Homo sapiens: one gene and its partners. The protein of the gene in region 3 purifies or fractionates together with the protein of the main gene of each other region. This does not show direct contact. Each region holds a gene or a part of one and is shown on either strand. Other genes may lie near its edges.

What was found. Proteins that work in one complex are often made in the same cells at the same time.
Region 1: the proteins of SYBU (region 3) and BICD1 purify together in Homo sapiens (affinity purification with mass spectrometry; 2 studies listed by BioGRID and IntAct, with this or other methods). This does not show direct contact.
Region 2: the proteins of SYBU (region 3) and TPH2 purify together in Homo sapiens (affinity purification with mass spectrometry; 2 studies listed by BioGRID and IntAct, with this or other methods). This does not show direct contact.
Region 4: the proteins of SYBU (region 3) and FAM91A1 purify together in Homo sapiens (affinity purification with mass spectrometry; one large-scale study listed by BioGRID and IntAct). This does not show direct contact.

The regions. Positions count from the first base shown.
Region 1 is NC_000012.12:32,104,949-32,110,451, reverse strand, and holds the start of BICD1 (protein bicaudal D homolog 1), read right to left. Parts: upstream 3,606-5,503; 5' UTR 3,121-3,605; coding exon 2,908-3,120; intron 2,791-2,907; coding exon of another isoform or gene 2,764-2,790; exon of another isoform or gene 2,562-2,763; coding exon of another isoform or gene 2,541-2,561; exon of another isoform or gene 1,808-2,540; coding exon of another isoform or gene 1,751-1,807; exon of another isoform or gene 1,644-1,750; intron 1-1,643. UniProt on the Homo sapiens protein: Regulates coat complex coatomer protein I (COPI)-independent Golgi-endoplasmic reticulum transport by recruiting the dynein-dynactin motor complex.
Region 2 is NC_000012.12:72,028,734-72,033,649, reverse strand, and holds the end of TPH2 (tryptophan 5-hydroxylase 2), read right to left. Parts: intron 2,393-4,916; coding exon 2,259-2,392; intron 2,130-2,258; coding exon 1,955-2,129; 3' UTR 1,210-1,954; downstream 1-1,209.
Region 3 is NC_000008.11:109,641,418-109,646,942, forward strand, and holds the start of SYBU (syntabulin), read right to left. Parts: upstream 3,406-5,525; 5' UTR 3,300-3,405; coding exon of another isoform or gene 3,243-3,299; coding exon 3,219-3,242; intron 2,806-3,218; exon of another isoform or gene 2,712-2,805; intron 1,774-2,711; exon of another isoform or gene 1,531-1,773; coding exon of another isoform or gene 1,516-1,530; coding exon 1,311-1,515; intron 1-1,310. UniProt on the Homo sapiens protein: Part of a kinesin motor-adapter complex that is critical for the anterograde axonal transport of active zone components and contributes to activity-dependent presynaptic assembly during neuronal development.
Region 4 is NC_000008.11:123,774,328-123,779,243, reverse strand, and holds part of FAM91A1 (protein FAM91A1), read right to left. Parts: intron 4,098-4,916; coding exon 3,946-4,097; intron 1,980-3,945; coding exon 1,922-1,979; intron 1,220-1,921; coding exon 1,152-1,219; intron 586-1,151; coding exon 472-585; intron 1-471. UniProt on the Homo sapiens protein: As component of the WDR11 complex acts together with TBC1D23 to facilitate the golgin-mediated capture of vesicles generated using AP-1.

The DNA of each region.
Region 1 (5,503 bases), on a different chromosome or scaffold from region 3:
GGAGAACACTTTGATGATGTCAGAAGTCATCCTTTTTTCAAATCCTTAGTACTATTCTTTCAAGTGTGTTCTTCTGTGAGCTGAATTACAGTAGTCCATGCAGAGCACTAAACAACATCAGGCCAGGTCAAAAAACAATTGAGTTGAGGGAAGAAATAACTAGGAAAAAAATTTAATGAATTTCATCTTCTTGATTTTGCACATCTTTAGGCAACACTGCCGACTTGCATTATTGTCACAGCAGTACCTAGCCTGGGAAGGAAGGTAGCAACATTGGTGGGTACTGACTCTGGAAAACAAAATGATCTGCAAAGACTGAGCCATGTTGCTATACTGCAAATTACTAATGTCCAATTTGGACTTAATACAGTAGTTTTCTGTTGACATTCCCATAAACTGGTTCAATTATTTTTAAATAAATCATATTTGTTCAAAAATCCTAGAAATAAGCAAAGATTTATTTTATGCTTGGCTTTATAGATATAATGCAACATCATTTACTATACATACCTGATGAGCAAAACTTTCTTTTGAAAAATCAAAACACTCACAAAATATTTTTCAAAACTGAGGTGTTGGAACACCTCAGTTTGCACAATTATTTTGGATTTACTTTTCATACAAGAAATGTTACTTGAAATCAATTTAACTCATTTAAGTTATATTTCCAACTAAAGTATATTCTATGTTTAAAGAATAAAAATAATAGGCCTCACTATCAAATAATCAACTATAATAATTTTATTACCTAAAATACATTTTTATATAACTGTATAAACCAGTTTTTTAGGAATCTCGAATTTCACTTATGCTAAATGCAACTGAAAATAAATATATGAACAAGAATCGTTTAGTAAAAATAATGCTGGTAAATTTTTATTAACCTCCTGCTATATAGAACAAAATATATATTAAAATATTTATAGAAAAAATTTTAGTTGGTATTTGCATTATTCTGTATTAAGAAACCACAGTTACATTATTCCTACAAAACGTTTTTTTCACATTTTTCTCATTACTGCTGGTGAAACTAATACAGGTAGTTTTATTAACATCTGTCACTTCCTATACATCCTAATTTTCTTAGTATTTATCTAACACTAATCAATATTGACTAGTGAACCCTTGATAAAAGTGTGCCTTCTTCTAGTACAAACTGATTCTTTCATAAAATATTTCATGCCCACTGTGTGCTAGCTTTTGTGTTAAAGACTTGGGATGCAAAGCTCATGGTGTAGCAAAGGCAAAACACAATTGCATTAAGGTTTGCTATGCAAGGTAAGTGCAATGACAGAAATATCCCTAGAAGGATTGTTTAAATCAAGCAGCAAAGTCAGTAAGAGGTACATTTCATTAAATTAAGTCCATCTCCTTTATCAAGAAGGTGATGGCTTACCACTTTCTGGTTTGCACTTCCCTATCTTGGCAAAGCAGTGTTGATAGGTATAGACAATATCAAAACATCTCTGAGAATGACAGTCATCATCCTGCTTCCTCACTTCACAAGGTTTAGCATCACTGCATTTAAACATGTCAGCCTAATCTAAGTTGGAAAATATAAACAAGTCCAGCTGTTGTTAAGACCAGACAGGTACATGGTAAGTAAAATAGGAACCAGAAATTTACAGCCTGACACACAAAAATTAGATTCCTAGTTGGGATTTTTAATCATAGGTAGTACATTTATTTTTTGGTAGACAGGCATCCAAATAAAAATAAGACATATCTAAAAGTATAAATGCTTACCATATTACACACTAAATTGGAAGGCAAGTTGATTCAGTATGTCATAAATCACATCTTTTAACTGTAACAGCATAAAATAAATAATAGATTTTTGATATTATATGCCAAACAATAATTAACATTTAAATGTCAATATGCACCTAAAAATAAGGACTTGACACACAGAAAAGGAGTGTATATTACATTTAAATTTGTAAGTGGTTATTTGCTACCCATAGTGCCTCAAGAATCAGATAAAAAAGACCGAGTTACTTAAACAATATGTATGTTCTTAAGAGTGACTGATAGGAAATCAAAGCACGTTCATTGTTTTCTCCCATACATCCGACAGGCTTTAAAAGAGGCCAAATACCAAAAAACTAAAGAGACATTATACATCACCCATTTTTGATATTCTGGTTTTATAAATATATCATTTCAACCAGAAGAGCCTCATTTGAAATGCAACACTACCCACGTATTTGATATACACCACTCTTTCAGACTATTTGTAGGTGAGTTCAATTTTTTCTAGTCAGGGTGACCTCATAAGACTTGGACATGGCCCAGCCTCGCTCCGAGGTGAAATCAAGGCAGTGGGATCACCCAGCAAAGTTGTTTTTCTTCTGCAGCCCAATGACAAGAATGACTAAAGCCAAGCAGAATGAAGATTGCCTAGCCTTTGTCAAATGGGATTGGTGAGGAGTTCCCTCTCTCACCAAGGAGTGGTTACATCCAGAGGAAAGCTGAGGTGCCACACAGTCTAAATCCTGAAATTGTGGGTCCTCAGGCACAAACCTCATCACTTTTGTGGACTACGAAATTGTCGCTGAAACCTGGGTTTGAGATAACAGCGGTTTTGAGAAGTTTGATTTATACATTCCAACCCACTTGAATGTCGTCTTAGAGTGCTGAGACTTGATGACTCTTACTAATCTCCCTCCCCCGCAGGCCAAACAGCCATTGCCTCCCAAATTCCAGCTTATATATTCATTTCTTAGGCAATTTTTCTCTTGGGGGAGGAAACAATGGACTCTTTCAATCTTCTCTTACCAACAAAGGGCCCTAGAAGAAAAAACAGTCCTTTCAATCACCTCCTTTATGACTTCTTGATCATGATGAGTGGGCCTTGCGGGTGGGGGGAGTGAGGGCCAGGAAAGGGAGAGGTGACAGGCAACTCACCTCTTTGAGCTGCTCCAGCTCCTGTTTGAGGCTGTCGTACTCAGCCTCCAGTTCATCATACTGCTGTTTGAGGGTCAGCTTCTCCTCCAGCACCACCAGCCCGTACTCGGCAGCCTGGATCTTCTCGTGGGTGGTCTCCGTGAGCTCCTTGGTTAGCCTCTCTATCTCAGTCTTATAATGGTCCACCGTCTGCAATACCTCTTCTGCGGCCATAGCCCCGGTGGATGGAGGCAGGAGGGGGTTACGGGGTGGGGGAGATGGATGCGAAGCTGGCGGGGAAAGGGAGAAGGAAATGGGAAGGGATGGGTGGAAACGGAAAAGAAAGTGCGGCCGGATGAATGAGCAGCGCGATGCCCCGCCGGCTCTGGTGGCAGCGGCAGCTACACCGCCCGAGAAACTGACGAGAAATGCAACATGGAGAACAGGGCAGAGGGTCAGGGGCGAGGCGGCAAAGGCCGCCGCATGTGTCCTCGGGGCCGGCCCCTGCGTGCGGTCAGCAGCCGTGCGGCATGGCCCGGGCTGCGGCGGCCGCGGGTAGCGAGGGGCTCCGGATTCTGCTTATTCAGAGACGCCCGTCCGCCATGTCTCCCGGGCCGCGTCACTGCAGTCTCGCCCTGGGTCTGGCGCGCTCCGGCTCGCGGCTCGCTCTCTCGCTCCACCTGCTCCCTCTGGCCCTGCAGCAGCCGGTGCGGAATGATGCAGTCTCGGGGCCGGCTCCCTCCCTTCCCGCGTGGCGGCGGCTCCGAGCAGGGGGCGGGGAGCGGATGGAGTCAGCGCGGGGGGCGGAGGGAAGGACCAGACGGAAACATCCCGAGGCGCCTCCCGCCGGGCGCGCGGGCCGCCGCCCGCTGCACCGTGAGGCGCGCCAGGAGGAGGCGCAGGCGACGGGTCTGGGACTGGGAAGCGGTGGGGCGCGCGCGGCGGGGGAGCCTCCGCCCTGTCCGGCTCGCGGGGGCGGGAGCTCCTCCCAGGGCTTTGTCCCGGTGGCAGTAGAAGACCCCGAGAGCGGCGTGGGCGCCCGGGCTCTTTTGCTACGTCGAGGGCCGAAGCTCAGGAAACTGCCTGGAACGCTTTCTCCCGAGAAAAGCAAACAAAACTATCGCGGTCGCGGTCCGCGCATCCTCCTCGTCCCCTGGGCGCGCAGAAGGCTTTTTGGGCCACCTGCCCCCAAAAGACCGCTGGGTTTCCCAAAGCTTTCAAGACGCACCCCAAGGCGCCCTCCTCCGTCGTCCCCCTCTCTCCCTGCCTCTCCCAAGTCTGGCCTGGGCCACCTAACACTCTCACCAGATAACCTTACTATCCTCACAGGACAGTCCGCTAAATATTGCTCGCCCTCACCCAGCGTATCACAAGAGCGCTATCCACTCAGAAAAAAAATATCTCCACAATACATGCACCCAGGAAACCTCTAGCTAGGTACTGTATATCTTGCCCCAATAGTTTCCATCAAAGCACCTTACTCTGTGTCTTCAATAAAGGAAAACTGCTTGAAATTCCCTATATAAGATACCAACGATGCCCTGTAATAAGCATTTTTTAAACAATAAGAGCTAAGAGTTCTTGAGACCCATACCAAGCATTCTTCTAAGTATGTAACATGCGTTCTCTCCAATCCTAACAATGCTTTGAGGTAAGAGCCATTATCCTCAGTTTACAGGGGGTGAAAGGCAAAGGGAGATGTGATTTGTCCAAAGTCAGGCAACTCTGGAATCTTAACTCGGGAGCACTAAACGGGATCATTATGTTGGCTTCAGGTTCACTCATTACTCATACAAACCCAGCAACTACATATTACATGCTTTTAAGATAATCACATTAATCCATATGAAGAGTGATGATGAACGGTTACAAAAGGAGGTGAAAGCAAAGTAAGAGTGGAGTAAATGAAAGAGTGGAGAAGGGTCGAGAATCAAGAGGAAGAACGCAACATGAGAGAAAAGAAGCAATTTCTGTGTAACGGGAGGCTGTGAGACCCACAGATCAGTGGGTCTTTCCAGTTCCCTCTCTTCTTCTGCATGGCACCTATTCCAGAGCTGTTTCTCAGTGACCAGGTGATGAACACACATGCGTTTTCTAAGTTAGAAAGCAGGACTCAACTCTCCCATCATTGTGTACCTGGTAAAAAAAAAAAAAAAAAAAAAAAAGATGATTGTTGACCGGGCACAGTGGCTCACGCCTATAATCCCAGCACTTTGGGAGGCAGAAGTGGATGGATCATTTGAGGTCCGGAGTTCAAGACTAGCCTGGCCCACATGGTGAAATCCCATCTCTACTAAAAATACAAAAATTAGCCAGGTATGGTGGTGCACGCCTGTGATCCCAGCTACTTGGGAGGCTGAGGCAGGAGAATTGCTTGAATCCAGGAGGTGGAGGGTACAGATGGCACCACTATACTCCAGCCTAGGCAACAGAGACTCCATCTCAAAAAAAAAAAAAAAAAAGGACACTTGTTGATGGCGTGGGAGAAAAAGCATATGACAGTGCCCTTCCAAAGTTTCCACTAGCAGGCTGTCTGGATGTGTTTTCCATTGCTTCACAAACCAGACAAGTTTCCTTCTAAACGCCAGCGATCACAACAGAATATTCTCATGTGATT
Region 2 (4,916 bases), on a different chromosome or scaffold from region 3:
TGTGGATATGCTATTCTGGATTATGATTCTGGATTCTAATTTATAAGTAATTTATTCAGGGTCATCTAAAGCTAGCAAAGCAAGATATAAGAAACTATATATTTATGGATCTATGAAACTATCAAAATATATGACTGCTTGATCAATCTAGATCTTTTAAATTTGGTTTAGCTTGTTCCTCATTTCTCCACCACCAATTTTTCAAGGCACTATTCCCTTCACCTGGAATAGCATTTATATTTTGTGACTCTCACATTCTATCCACCAAATTATTTCTCAAAATTCAGTTGTTCTGAGAATGCTTCAGAGATAAAAGATCCTCAATCGTTAAGACAACCAATATTCAAACCTCTGGGTTTTCATTTTAGTTTGATCTCTCCCTGATGTGTCTTTTAGCTCTTTCTCATGTTCTTCCTGAATATATTTAGTCCAAAGATTTCTGACCCTTTGTGGGCTCCACATAAGAGTATGAATTAGTTTAAAATTATATGTAATTTCTTACTAAAAGAACATCTTTGGAAATTGCTCAAGTAAATATTTTAAATTGCTAAAGGTTATTTTGTCATTTTTTTTCTCTAGTTTTTCTTGCCCCTTCCTTCCCCAGTCCAGTGTTCCTTACTACCAAATGCAGAATCAGAAGAACAGTAGTTATGTTCAGTGAGGGAATCCAAAGAAATTCATTCACTCTCAGCAGTTTTCTATTTGTTCACTTAACCACTTAATTTCATCTTTTACTGCAAAGACCACCAAAACTGTGTGCTGCATCACTACTGTTTACCCAAAGTTGCCCAAACTTTAGGAAAGTGGAGAACCTTCCATAGATTTGGCCTGATTTGCAGCTGTGAGGGGAAACAACATATATACAGTTGGCAACCCTTGACCACAAACCAAGTTCTATTTACTGATAAACATTAGTTTGGATAGGCATTATTTCCTATCTCCAATGACATATTAACACATGCACACACCAAGATGAAGTTTCCCATCTCGGATGACACAGAAACACATGCAAGCACTGGGACGAATTTATCAGCAAAACAAAAGGAAAGTGCAATGGACTGTGAATGTTAGTGTACAACTCACTGTACTGCTTCAGGCAAATCACAACTTCTCTGTGACTCAATTTCCACATCTCTGAAATCAAAGATGATCTTTATAGCTCTGTGATTTTATTCTCCTCTGACCAGAAAAAAATTGTTTAAACACCTGAACATGATAATTTACTTTATTCCAGCATAAAATTCATAGTCCCAAGATTGATTGTCCACTGTTTAGTCTTTCCTAATGTCCTTTCCGGAAGTACTATCTTCCAAAATACTTCAGGAAGCTTGTCATAACTCAGGTTCTACAAGGTCAACGCAACCTACATAATTCCATTTGTAAAAAGGTGTTTTCTTGCATTGTGTAAATACTCAACCTAAAAATCATTCCAACTGCTGTGTTACCTCAACAATTTTTGAAATAGAATATTGAACCTTTGTTATTGTGATGGGAAGTTTCCTACAATTCTGGGTTTATCTCAAATAATGCGTGAAAACACTGATACTATTGAAAATGGAAACAGCTTCACTGCTTTTTTTCATTTTATCTAATGAACACAGAGGAAAGGCTTAGATCTGAAAAAGAAAAGGGCATAAATGAGACTCATAAGAGGGCTATTTGTTACAAATTTTAACTAGATGCAGTTTGGTTAAGGACACTAAGCAGGAATGTCAAATCTTTTTAAGATGTTTAAACATAATACGTTATTTCATACAATGAGTGGTTATCTGCCATTGGATTTCTTATGGTGCTTTATATACTAACACAGTGAGTTACAAGATGGTATAGATATATGGAATTGCATGCTTATTAGCCAAGCCATGACACAGAAGGTTATTTGCGTTATATGACATTGACTGAACTGCTGCTAAGCCCCAAAAAGATCATGCTGGCAACAACATAGTTCCAGGCATCAAATCCCCAGATATTGGTTCATTTTGTTTAAAGCATCACACACTGTATTCAAGTCGCTGCGAAGGTCCTGCACCACATTTTCAATACTTCTGGTGTCTTTCAGAATTTCAATACTCTGTGTGTAGGGATTGAAGTATACTGAGAAGGGACGGGTAATTGACTTTGCAAAGTCCCTGCAGAATAAACAGAAGTAGAAAGAGATGTGATCAACCCTCATTGGTACGAGGGATAGATAAAAGGAAGGAATAGAGACAGAAAAATAAAAAGTTATTTTCTCTAGCTAGGAGGAAAAAAAAGTTTACCTCATCTTTTCTTTGGCTTCTTCAAAACTTTCTGAAACAAAGTAGGCTTCCTGGAAGGTGGTGATAAGGCATTCCTGTAAGCAAGTTGTCTTTGGGTCAAAGGCTTTCACACATGCCTTGTCAGAAAGGGCGTGCTGCAAAATATACCACAAAACCTGTTAAACTCTGTAATGAGACTTCCGAAGCTCCATGACATCACATTTTTACAACACATTTGATAGCTCGGTAATCCTACAGAGCTGCTCAGTTACTAGTCTGTCATGAAATATGGAACTCTCCTGTGTGCAGGGTAAATTGGAAACTAGGATTTTGTTTGGTTGTTTGTTTGTTTTGCTTTTTTAAGTATGCTAGGTACTGTGGGAGAAAATGAGATTGTGGTATTATTTAATTTATTACCAGCCAAATTCATACTGAAGGACAGTTCAGAGCTATTCCCCCACAGAAATGGGATTTTAAATCTATGCTATGAATAGAAGCAGGGACAGCATAAATATGCTCCAAAATTTATTGCTATAAGCAATGTACTAAAATTTCACTTAAATGGCAGAAGTAATAATTATCTGCATGGAGAGGTAATTGGGGCTCTGACTAAACTATTTGTCTATTCATTGGGAGATATTTTGAGGCCAGGTACTGTGTATCAACAGAGTCTGGAGTGGGCCTGTATATTTGAGGATACTTAAAAAGCATTCATTTACCTTCCACCAAGTACAGCAGAGCAATATACAGCAGATAAATATTGCCACTTGAGGAAAAAAGGAGCTAATATTAATAGTCAGAGTTATGCCAAGAGCAGGTATTAGAAAAACAGGAAAGCTGGCGTAATTACTCTTTGAACCATCATTAGCTCCGTTCAGCTCACTACATGACTAGCACTAAGAACAGCAGGGAACAATGAATGACTATATTCTCAAGATAAATTCAGTGATGTTAAAAGTTAGTGGTCATTTCCTGCCATGTGCTGCCTATTTATAGACCCTAGATTGATGGTTCTAAAAATGCAATGTGCATAAGAATCACTGAGGAGCTTATGAAAATGCAGATATCCAGGGTCTCAATTTCATTTGGCAGGTCTGGATGAAACCTAGAAATCTTCATTTTAAAGGCATCCAAGTTGACTCCAATATAAGTGGTTGTGAACTATATATTGAGAAATACTCCTCTTAATTCTTTTTCTTAATTTAAGGGGGAAATTAGTTGGGAGAGAGAGGCAGAGAGAAAAAATGGGGTAGCAGAAACTGCCGTGAACTGAGAGTTGGAAAACTGGGGCTTTAGTCCAGGTCTAACTGGGTAACCTCAGCAATCATTCAACCTCCCTGTGCCTCCATTTCCTCAACTGTAAATGAGAGTTTTAGGCGGGAAGATTCTGAAGACAATCTCTATCCCAGCCTCTGGATTCCACCCATTATACTTTTCTACCTTCTCAGTCTCTAACAGCTAAGGTTTCCTGGAGAAATTCAGAAAACCCTTTCCTGTTCAATATTCTTCGTGCATTCCTCCAACAATTTCAAAATGCATGGAATGATTTACAGCCCTCCATGAAGAAGTCTGTGGTTCCCTAAGTTTGAAAATGCAATTGAGAACCAAAAGACTGACATGTAAGAGAAAGGGCACCCTGCATGTGATTTGCTTTCCTGCAAAGTTCCATTGTCCAGATAAATGCATATATGAATCACAGAATGCAGAGGGCCTCTCAGCGTGAACTCATTTTTTTTGGCCCACAGAACAACTTCATTATAAGCAGAAGGTCACTACACTTGCAAATGCATTTGTGCTAGATTCAATGCAGGGCAGTGAACATCAAGGGATTTTGGTTCCACATGACCAATAATTCTGTCCACAATTTTAGAAACATATTCACAGTTTCAAGAAACAAAATGTCCCTTTATGAAAGTTGTTGCCCCTCTGCAAAAAATTGGCTTCCTGTTGGCTTGCCATGATTTTCAGAATTCGAATTAGCTTTCTTTGCATCCGTACACTCTGGTTACATTTAATGTACTACGTTGTTCTAACAGTCCATTCATCCATCAGTACATATGGAAAGGACTGTGGCTGGCTCAATGTGTTTAGTCTTCCTACTCTCTCATCCCTGCATTCAGGGTCATGGCCAGAGTGGTAGCAGAATAGGCTGTAAGAACATTAAAGCCATGGCTCCCTTGGGACATCCTTGCTAAGCTAAAGACATTTCACTGGGTCAAGGACAAGCACAAGAAAGAAGTGAAACTCATCTGTTTGTGTCTCCATTGCTTCTATAAGACATTAGCAACCTTAGCAGTCACTATGTATAGAGGATGCCTCCAGAGGTGTGTATGCAATGACAGAGACTGAAATCAGTGTGGTTTTGGAAAAAATATCATTTTGTGACAATTCCACTGGATAGCCAGATACGTATTTAGTCATTTTAACAGCTAAAAAGCATTAAAGTAGATCAAGAAAAGGCCCAGAGCATACGGCACTCTGCCCCAGACTTCAAGAAAAACCAGTGGGTTCACACACATGTAATTTGAGGCAGGCCATTAGGAATATAGATCACGCTTGACCAATGTAACATTTAAAGGAAAAACTGGAAGTTAATTGTCTTAAGTTCTCAAAAACGCAGCCTACCCTCAGGAGTCTGCTATGCGTGTGATATGCTGGTTACCTGCTGGAGACCTTTCC
Region 3 (5,525 bases):
GCCACTCTACAAGGCAAGTATTATAATCTCATTTTATGGATGTAACAACTAAGGCTTAAGGAGGTTAAGCAACTTGCTGAAGGTCACACAGTATGTAAGTGGTGAAAGGGCCAGGGATTCCAGCCCTTCAGGCTTGACAGATCACAAAGCCTGGGCTCTTCCCTACTAAACCATAAGGCCAGGCCAGCCTTAGGCTATAACTCTCCTTGATCTTGACCTCATTTATTAGGAATTGCTTTATCTTTGGGGAATTTTATAATTAGAGGTACACAGGCTTCTAGAAGTTGCTAGTATAAAATTCAATCCAATATTTTTTCTACATTTAACAAAGGAATGCATCTTTAAAAACAGTCATAGAATGGCAGTAATTAAAAGATCAGGAATGGACAGATGCTGGAGAGGATGTGGAGAAATAGGAACGTTTTTACACTGTTGGTGGGAGTGTAAATTAGTTCAACCATTGTGGAAGACAGTGTGGCGATTCCTCAAGGATCTAGAACCAGAAATACCATTTGACCTAGCAATCCCATTACTGGGTATGTATCCAAAGAATTATAAATCATTCCACTATAAAGACACATGGACACGTATGTTTATTGCAGCACTGTTCACAATAGCAAAGACTTGGAACCAACCCAAATGCCCATCAATGATAGACTGGATAAAGAAAATGTGGCACATATACACCAAGGAATACTATGCAGCCACAGAAAAGGATGAATTCATGTCCTTTGCAGGGACATGGATGAAGCTGGAAACCATCATTCTCAGCAAACTAAACAGAGGAACAGAAAACCAAATACCGCATGTTCTCACTCATAAGTGGAAGTTGAACACATGGACACAGGGAGGGGAACATCACATACCAGGGCCTGTCAGGGGGTGGGGGCTAGGAGAGGGATAGCATTAGGAGAAATACCTAATGTAGATGATGGGTTGATGGGTGCAGCAAACCACCATGGCATGTGTATACTTATGTAACAAACCTGCATGTTCTGCACGTGTATCCCAGAAATTAAAGTATAATAAAACAAAGGAAAAAAGTCATAGAAACAAGAAGTTAGATTTTACATTCGAAATTATAAGCTAGAATAACATATGAAAATTCAGGTGTGAGATTCCAATAAACTGAACTATATGAAACTGCTGTGTTTGTAGGTCACAACAGCCAGAAATGTACCACCTTCTACAATTCATCCTAATAGTAGAAGTGTAGTTCTAGGCTATAAGGGACCCAGTATGGGCCCATTCACAATGCACCTGCAGTGCACACGCTTCACGCCTCTGGTGGCCTCCCGAGGGTACTGTACCTGAGCAGAAGCTGTTGCTGCTAACGGTCCTCGCTGAGCGCCCAGAGCTGCTGGGGTTGAACTCTCTGCTCTCTTCCTCAGAGAAAGGAGACTCAGAGGCTGGGGACACTTTGTGCTGTTGTTGGGGCATATGGGGCCGAAGAATCAACCGGGGAATTCGGCTTCGAGAAATCTCCTTGTCATGATGCTGCACTCTGTGCTCCTTCTCAAAATTGGACATCAAAAAAGAAAACAAAAGGAAACGCGTTTCCCTCTCTTAACTCCTGTCGGTTCCTTCAAGGATCAATTTCTAAGAAATCACATTTCTGAGTATTGAGTCTTCACAGAGTAGTCCTTCTTATCTCAGTTGCTGAAATGAGCTTCAAAACTCTTCCAATGAGTTAACCTTTCTAATCTACTGAATAGCACATGTCTGTGTGGCACACACACACACACACACACACACATATACACACCTCCACTCACTAGCTGGAAGGCCATCCTACTTCCCTATGCTGGTCCTGACTCACCTTCCCACCCTGACTTCTATCACATTCAAGCTTCTGCCTCCCAAAGGCTCTTTATTAACACCACACTCTGGCTTACTTGATAGCCTTCAGACTTCCATTTTGCTTTCCCTAAATTAGCTGTGACAGTCTGACTTGTTTTCTTGTCTCCTCACAAAGTTGAACCCTATACCTGGAACAGTTATTTCCTGATAGCTCACACACAATTATCTTTAAAATCCCTCCTCTTCTGGACAGGATCTTAATTATTCGTTAATATCCTGGTACACAAGGCTTGTTGCCAACAGAAAAGCAAACACAAATCCGATACTCGGGAAGATGGCTCCACCTTTTACATCATCTTTAATTTTTGTTTTCCTTACAGGACATCCATAAGAAGAGATTTTTCTTTCTCCTTAAAAACGCAGCATGAAGTACCCTGCCATTTCGTGGTTTTAAAAATGCGTAACAGTAATATTTTCACAATGTTTTCCAACTTATAAAGTGCTTTTCCAACCATTTTCTCATTTGATCTTTACACACCAGACTGTACATAGAGAGCACACCAATGAATGTCCCTATTTTCAGATGAGGAAACAGGCTAAATGGGGTAGAGATGCTTAGGCAATTCTGCACACCATGCCAGAAGTAGAACGAAATTCAAATCCAGTGCTTTGCAGGGTCACCACCACCCTGCCTTATGAAAATGGATTCCTAGGAGGAGCGTTTTGCAAAAATTCCACTGCTTCCTCCAACCTCTGCCACTGAAAGGGACTCTTTGGCTTAGGTAACAAACACCCTTTCGAAACATGACCTACTGTTCCTTCCACCGGCTTACCAGGAAGGGTCACGGCCAAAATAAACACCTCTGGGAGGCCGGCACATGGCATAAATTGAAGGGTAAACCTCAGCAATGGGGAACTTCGGAGGGCCCTCAGGCATCCACTCTACCCGGGGGCCGCCAGCCGCACGCAGCCTCGGATTCGCCCTGCACATCTGCCGCCCAGCAGGTACCATGCGCCAGCCACTCCGCCGGGCACACCGCAGACCCTGAGCTAAGGCAGGGTCACTGACACGCGGGAGTCCTCTTTTCCCAGTCGCGGATGCATCAAATTCCTTTCATTCACATCACACACACAGGATATCAACTGAAAGCTACACCCCACAGTCCCAGTTTCAGGAGGTGGGATTAACCCTCCAATCATGTCATTCTCCAAAATCTATTCCTCCAGTACCACCTCCCCATCTCCTGGATCTCAACTCCTAAGCAATGCCTCCTGCCTTCTCCAGACCCCACCACCACCTCCTTCCACCTTTCCCCAGACTCTAAATGTCACCCCTCCAGCTCTCATCCCGCCGCTTCTCGCCCCGCAGTGCCCGCCTTCCCCGCCCTCCAGTGCCCGCACTGCCCCGCGCTCCTTACCTTGCTCTCGCGGAGGGGCCCCATCGCGCCGCTGCCCGCCGGCTCCTCGCGCCGCCGCTGCCGCCGTCCAGGAGGAGGCACCTGCGAGCACGGAGCGAGGAGACTGCGCTGAGCCGGCGCGGGCTGCGGGCGGCGGCTCTTGGTGAGGCTCCAACGCGCCGCCGCCGCCACTGCCGCCGATTGCTCTGGGCTCCGAGGGCACGCCCGACCCCGCCCCGGCCGGACACGTGGTGCCGCACTCGCTAGAGGCAGCTCCTGGGGCGCCTCCCACGCCCTCCCTCACCTGCGGCCTTCGGGGCAACTCGACCGCGCCTGGGCGCGCCCCACCCGCCCGATTTCCCCACGGCACTCCGCGCCCCCCCAGCCAGAGCCGGTGTCCCTCCCTCTCCAAGGAGCTCGGCCCGGTGTAGGCAGGCTGCGGCTAGCGGCATCTCCAGCCCAGGGGTGACCCCACCCTCTTTTTTTTTTGCACTTGATCTCAGGTTTGAAGTGGGTGGCGTTGGATGGAGTGACTGAGAAAAGCTGCGACATCACAGAGAGACAAAATAGAGAAAGTTTTCCCCTGGCCACCCCTCCTTGGCCTCCAGGTCTTAAGTCAGCCTACAGCTCCCCACAACTGCCTCGCCCGAGAGCTGCAGAGATCCCTCTCGTACCGGAGCCCAGCCAAGCCAGTGCGTCAGGACCGACACAGCCTCTGGGTTCCGGGATCTGAAAGGCTGCGATGGATTCTACTTGGAAGGGGTTGCATCAGAAAGGCCTTCAGTGGTCAGCGCAGCTCCCTCCGGCTTGGAGAAGCCAGGCTGCTATGTAGCCAGAGAACAGTCTTTTCCCCAGCGCTGCCCTGCAGCTGCCCGGCTCCAGGAAGTAGCTCCAGCACACTGCTAAGGGAAGAGCACTGGAATTGAACTCAGAAAAACGAGTTCAAGCCAGCACTCCAATCGGTCCCTTCAGCCTGAGTGCCTTTATGCCTAAAGTTTTTGTTGTTGTTTCGTTTTTTGTTTTTTTTTTTTTCCGTTGCTGTTGAAACGGCATCTCGTTCTGTGGCCCAGGCTGTAGTACAGTGGCGCGATCAGGGCTCACTGCAACCTCTAACTCCTGGGATCAAGGGATCATCCCGTCCAGGCCTCTCAAAGTGCTCGAATTACATGCGGATGCCATTGCATGCGTGGCCTACGCCTACGGTTCTTGACCCTTCTGAACTTCAAATTTACCCTTGTTAAATTGAGGGATAATAATAGTGATACCTACCTCTAGGATAGCTGTGAGGGTTAGGTGAGGAAAACAAACAGCTCTATCCAGCTGATTGAACAGAACTTTCCAAAGGGCAGCTAAGTCAGGTCCAGATGATCCAGTCAATATTTGTTGATGCCTTTTACATGACAGGCAGAAAAAGCATTTGTGATGCACACAAATTTGTTTAAGAAAGCTCGAAAATCTGTCCAACTGGGGACTTAGAATAGGGTACATCAGCTGGGCCAAGGGCCTTGATTTATTACAATTGCTACCCTTAAATCTTATCTGGTGGTGGAATTCACCATGTATAATGACTTATATACCCTTTATTCAGAATTGGAGAATATTCCAAGCAGTGCGACACTCTGATCCTTATGCACCAGTGTCCTACATAGGAGGACTGTGCTCCTCGAAAACTGAGGGTCATTGTCCCCTTTCATCCATCCTCCAAACAGCATTTCTGAGTCCTCAACTCTCAAGCCTAAGAATATATGTTGTGAGTCTAGAGAGAGCCTGAAGCCAGAGGATTAGTGGAATCAATTTCCCTTCTTCCTATAACTCCAAAAGAGAGCTTCCTCCATAAATCTTCATGCCTTTTCAATCTACTTAGCTCTCTCAAGCAGTGAGGTTGGTAATTTTAAGATTCTTTATTTGGGAAGAAGAGGTGATTAATTCATACTTTCTACACCCACAGCTGTTTCAAATATGGACCTCAGGAAAGTGATGGTCCAGGATGATTCATACAACTTATTATTCCTAAAATTATGAGCCTGGGATCATATACTGTGAGATAAGAACAAACTTTTAAAGTTAATGGATGCTTCTGAGTTCCCTACTTAGAATTGAGAATTGACACTGGGGACCTAATAGCAGAAACACCCTCCACTGAGTTAGCCAAGTCAGAACCTCAGTGTCATCGTGGACTTTTTTCTCTCATTCACCTGACCCACACATAGCATAAACCACCAAGTGATCTCTATGCCACCCAAGTAATAACGGTCTTGAATCTGATTACTTCTGTCCACTATTTGTCTCCATTATCTTCGTGTAGAGTGTAAACCACAGTCACCCTAG
Region 4 (4,916 bases), about 14 Mb from region 3:
CCACTAAGACATGAGCTGTTACTTAATTGTTCTGTGCTCACTTTCCTCATCTGTGAAATGGGGGTACAAATAATACATACCTCTGGGGCTGTTATGAGAATTAAGTAAGACAATATAAAAAGCACTTGTAATAGAGCTTGGCACATCTAGCACACAGCAGGTATTCAAAAGTGTTAGCCAGTATTATTGTTGTAGGTAGCTGTGGCATCATGTTACTTTACACGAAGCTTCTATCTAATTAACATCCCCAGATAACTGTACTTGAACCAAGTCAAGTCTCCCTCACCATTAAAGAGTATCTCAAAAACTCACCAATATTCTAGTCTACTAAGATCATTTTAAATTTTAAATTTAAGTTTCCTTTTCTTCAGGAAAACAATGTTACTTTTTAAAAAATTATAAGCTATAATTAAAAATTGTAAAATAAACTAAAAAATAAAAATTCTATGTTTAACTTTTAAAGATTTCTACCTTGATGTCATCTTCTGTGATATAGCCAGCCTGCACCACCCACCACGCCTCTATGGCAATTTCCACTGGCTTTATTGGTAGAAGATCACGGGCTGTTTTCCTTCTGAAGAATTTCTGCAATGGTACAAACATTTGAGAATTTGCAATCTAAAACTACCACTTTCTTCTTTCATCAATCATATCATAAGATTGTTTCTAATGGACTAAATAAATATCTTCTTAAAATCTTCATGTTTTAAAATCTTAACAATTCTAGATATTAACATATTGTATGAAGAAAGTCATTCTTAAATTGTTTCAAAATAAATTGTTTCAAAACACTAATTGTTAAATCCAGATTTACTTCCACAAACTCAAGTGAAACCCAAGCAGTGAAAAATGCATTTGAAAATGCAAACACTTTTTTCACCCACTAAGTGAACTGTACAAGTAGAATGAGCAAATAAAAAGACTAAGAGAACAAAAATAATTTTTAAAAATAAATGTTTTATGCATTAAAAATTTTAAATAATCATTTATGCTATAACCTAGAGAATACTGAGGAGTTTTTTTTGTATTGTTTCTGTGTTAAGTACATTTTATTTGGTCAAAGACATACAATTCATTATTTCTACCACTTAAAAAAACTAATCAAACTGTGTGATGAGGCCAAAACAATGAAAAAGAAAGTACTAACTTACTTTTGATGATCTACACTGATTCATAAGATCAATATACTGGTTTCTTCCTATGCCAAGAAGCCTTAGACCTGAAAAAAAGAGTCTTTCCTTTAAAAACATTTAACATATCTTGAAATCTCAATATGTTCACAAGCGATTGTAGGAAAAACCCGAGCTTATTTTCATCTTTCAATTACTAGTCAAATATCAATATCAAATTAAAAGGACGTCTTCAACCAAAACATAAATGAAAGCTAAACTTTGGGAGAGATGAATTCAAGATGACACTTCTAACAAAAACATTTTAAAAAAGCAGAAGTCCTGCCAATTTTAGGAAGTCAAAATGTAATTCTCAGCGAAAGCTTCTTAAACAACAGAATTATGACACATTCAAAATATACACTTTGCCAAAGTAAGCATACTAAAACAGCAGCAAGTTAAGTTACTAAAAACTGTATGTCACCCTGCAAAAATACTGTGCACAAGTTTTCCTCCCACATTCAATATACACACAGCCCAAGTATCAGAAAGAACTTCATTCTCTGGAAATATATAGATTAGTCTTATTTTTCTGATTCTACCACTCTCAAATATGCCTCTCTTAGACATTTAGAGTAAATCTTACACATGCATCTGGTATCATCTGATAAAATTCTCACTGATAATGTTGCTTACTGTTCTCATTTTTCACATATTTCAGGTTAAAAACACACATGACAATATTCACAGATGACAGGATGCACAAAGACACAACCTAAACATTACCTTCTTCAGCACAATTAAATACTTACAGTCAGCAGCAGTAAAATTGGGCAATGAATCATAACTTTTCTCACTGTTCATAATATCCTTTTAAAAAGAAAAAAATTTAAATTTGAAATCTAAAATGTCCTTAAATAAAAATGTGTATAAATACAATATTATTACAGCCAATAACAATGATTATTACAGGAAGCAGTAAGATCATAGTTTGGCTACCTAGAGCATACATGCCACCCTGTGGCACTTTCCACACATGTTCCCAACCTAGTAATTAAAGGGCAGATTTTCAGGTCTAGGTTTCTTAAGAGGCTCTCTACGAATCCCAGGCAGCTGCCCCATAACCTCTGCCCTGTGGAAGCTATGTAAGTAATGGCTCCATTAGAGCTCAGGGTTCCAGCCTCTCCACATTTCATACCTGATCCTAGATCTCCACCATGAGAGAAAGCCAAATAATGTGGCACAGCTCCATCAACATGCACTACCAATGAAGACTACAACCACTTAGTGGCCTTTGATCCCACAAGTCCCAATCTGTAGAAGAGCTAAACTTGGTATCCAGCTTTTTCTGCCCCAATCTGTTTCTCCAATAACAAACCCACTGCTTCCTGTGGGGATAAGGCCCGTTTTCTACCGAGGAACTATACCCAATGATAGAATAACAGAAACCAGAATGCAGCAACCATGTGGATGTAACTGAAATGAAAGCTGATAAGTGAAACAAAAACTCCACCTATTTTAGCTCCCAAATTTGTGGACTACACTAGAAAAATAAAGAGACAGCAGTAACTATTCTACTTCCTGATTAGCTGCCACCTTCATTATGCTACCCTGGTTCTTCACTATGCTACCTGGGCTATCGGGCCTCTCGCTTTCCTCCAGTATTTCCTCCAAAAGAGGAACACGGGATGCATGGGACTGCAGAAGCACCCATGAAGGAGGGGCTTCTGGAGATAACGAAGGGAGCAAACAGCAAAGCACACATCGTATGTAGGGCTAACCTCATGTTACCACACGTTCCCAACTCCTTTAGTTCTAGGCTCCTCTCTGCTCTTCAAGCGGCTAGTGAGCCCCAAACAGAAGCACTCAAACATAATTAAGGAGCAAATGAATACTAAATAAATACTGCCAATCTTTAATAAAGCTCACTTGAAAACAGTATATAACTAGTATTAAAGTTATCCAATACAAGCCTAAAAGCTGTCTTTGGAAAAAGGCTAACAACTAAAAGTTAATAATTATAGAAAGAGATTAACAGCCAAGACTACTAACATATTTCTCTTTTCTGGCACCTGTATTATATAATGTTGGGTCTATGTCATCATTCATTCTTTAGACAGTTAGTGAATAGTTAAATACATTAATTTTCTTTTCTTTTCTTTTTTTTCTTTTGAGACAGTCTCACTGTGTCACCCAGGCTGGAGTGCAGTGGCGCTATCTCGGCTCACTGCAACCTCCACCTCCCAGGTTCAAGCGATTCTCCCCCCTCAGCCTCCTGAGTAGCTAGGATTACAGGTGCACACCACCACGGCTGGCTAATTTTTGTACTTTTAGTAGAGACGGGGTTTCACCATGTTGGCCAGGATGGTCTTGATCTCCTGACCTCATGATCCACCCACCTTGGCCTCCCAAAGTGCTGGGATTACAGGCGTGAACCACTGCTCCCAGCCTAAATACATTAATTTTCTCAGAACATAATGTTCAATTCTGTCACCCACATTTTCAACCTTAATCACGTTTTAAAAAGCAATAAATTTTACACAGACTCTGCCAACATAAATGACTGATCAGTACTACAACAGCACAAAGGGTCAATAGCACCTTCAAGACCAGAAGAGAAATAGACAGCTTCCCAATGTAAAAACATCAATAAGGATAAGTACTTGTACAGTGTGGCTCAAACAGTTAACAAGCCACCAATAGTCCTTTTTACACTATAAGTTCTGAAAGAGTGTCCACCGCAGACGACAGCTGAAGAGCTGGTGAACATCTGCAAAAAGTCCCAGACATGTAGTCCCATCCCATTCCCACTGGCTCACCCACACTGTAAACTCACCTCCATAATCCCAGTATAATATGAAAATGGTGTTATCCTCAAGCCTTTCACCATAATATCCGATAGATGGTAAGGGTACAGCATGAGATGATCTCGGCTGTACTTTAGCAGTTCCTCATAGTATCTGCGTTCATCTTTCTTGACATGTTTAACTGCACAAAAGAGGGAAATTCTCCAGTTTTTTTCAGGTTTCTTATAGTTATATATTAACTATGAACACTTTACAAACCAACAGTAATTTAAAAGAAAAGTATGTAAATTACAAGAGAACAAATAAAATATTCTAAGTTGGAACAAAGAAATATATCACATGAAATAGATTTTAGAGTATAGAAGTAAAATGAATAATAGGACAGATTAGTAGAGAATAATTCTTGCCAAATGAGAAAACAAGCATGGAACTACCAGCATGCCCCCCAAAAAGGTACAAAACAGAGCTTTATTGAATTGTATTCTACTACCTTACAAGAGAGCCAAACTGAATGCTCGTTTTCAATGAAGTCAAGTCTATTTTTAAAAATTATTTGCTGCTTTTTTAGTTTTTAAATGTAAAAAGCCCTCTGACTTTCATGGAAAATGTTCATGAAGAAAAACAATGTCAGAAATATTATGCTTAAAATAAGAGTAACAAACAGGAGTGAAAGACTACCAGGGCAACAGAATAGACTAACCAAAATAATCTGATAAATAAACAAATTTTTTTTTAGAAAGAAGAAAAAAAAATCATGGAATGAACTATGTTTAAAATGTGTCCCAATTATTATAAAGTTTTTCATATTATTTGGAAAATTTATGGAGACAACCCAAAGTCAAAAATTACTAAGAACTAATATACTTTTTCTTTTATGGCATATTTTCTTACCTCAGGCAAAAAGAGGACATTTGAATTAAGATTATTTTATAGATAAAATGAGTCCATAAACAGTACTCTAAAAATAATTTTTATCAGAATTAGAATGAAAAATCTACTT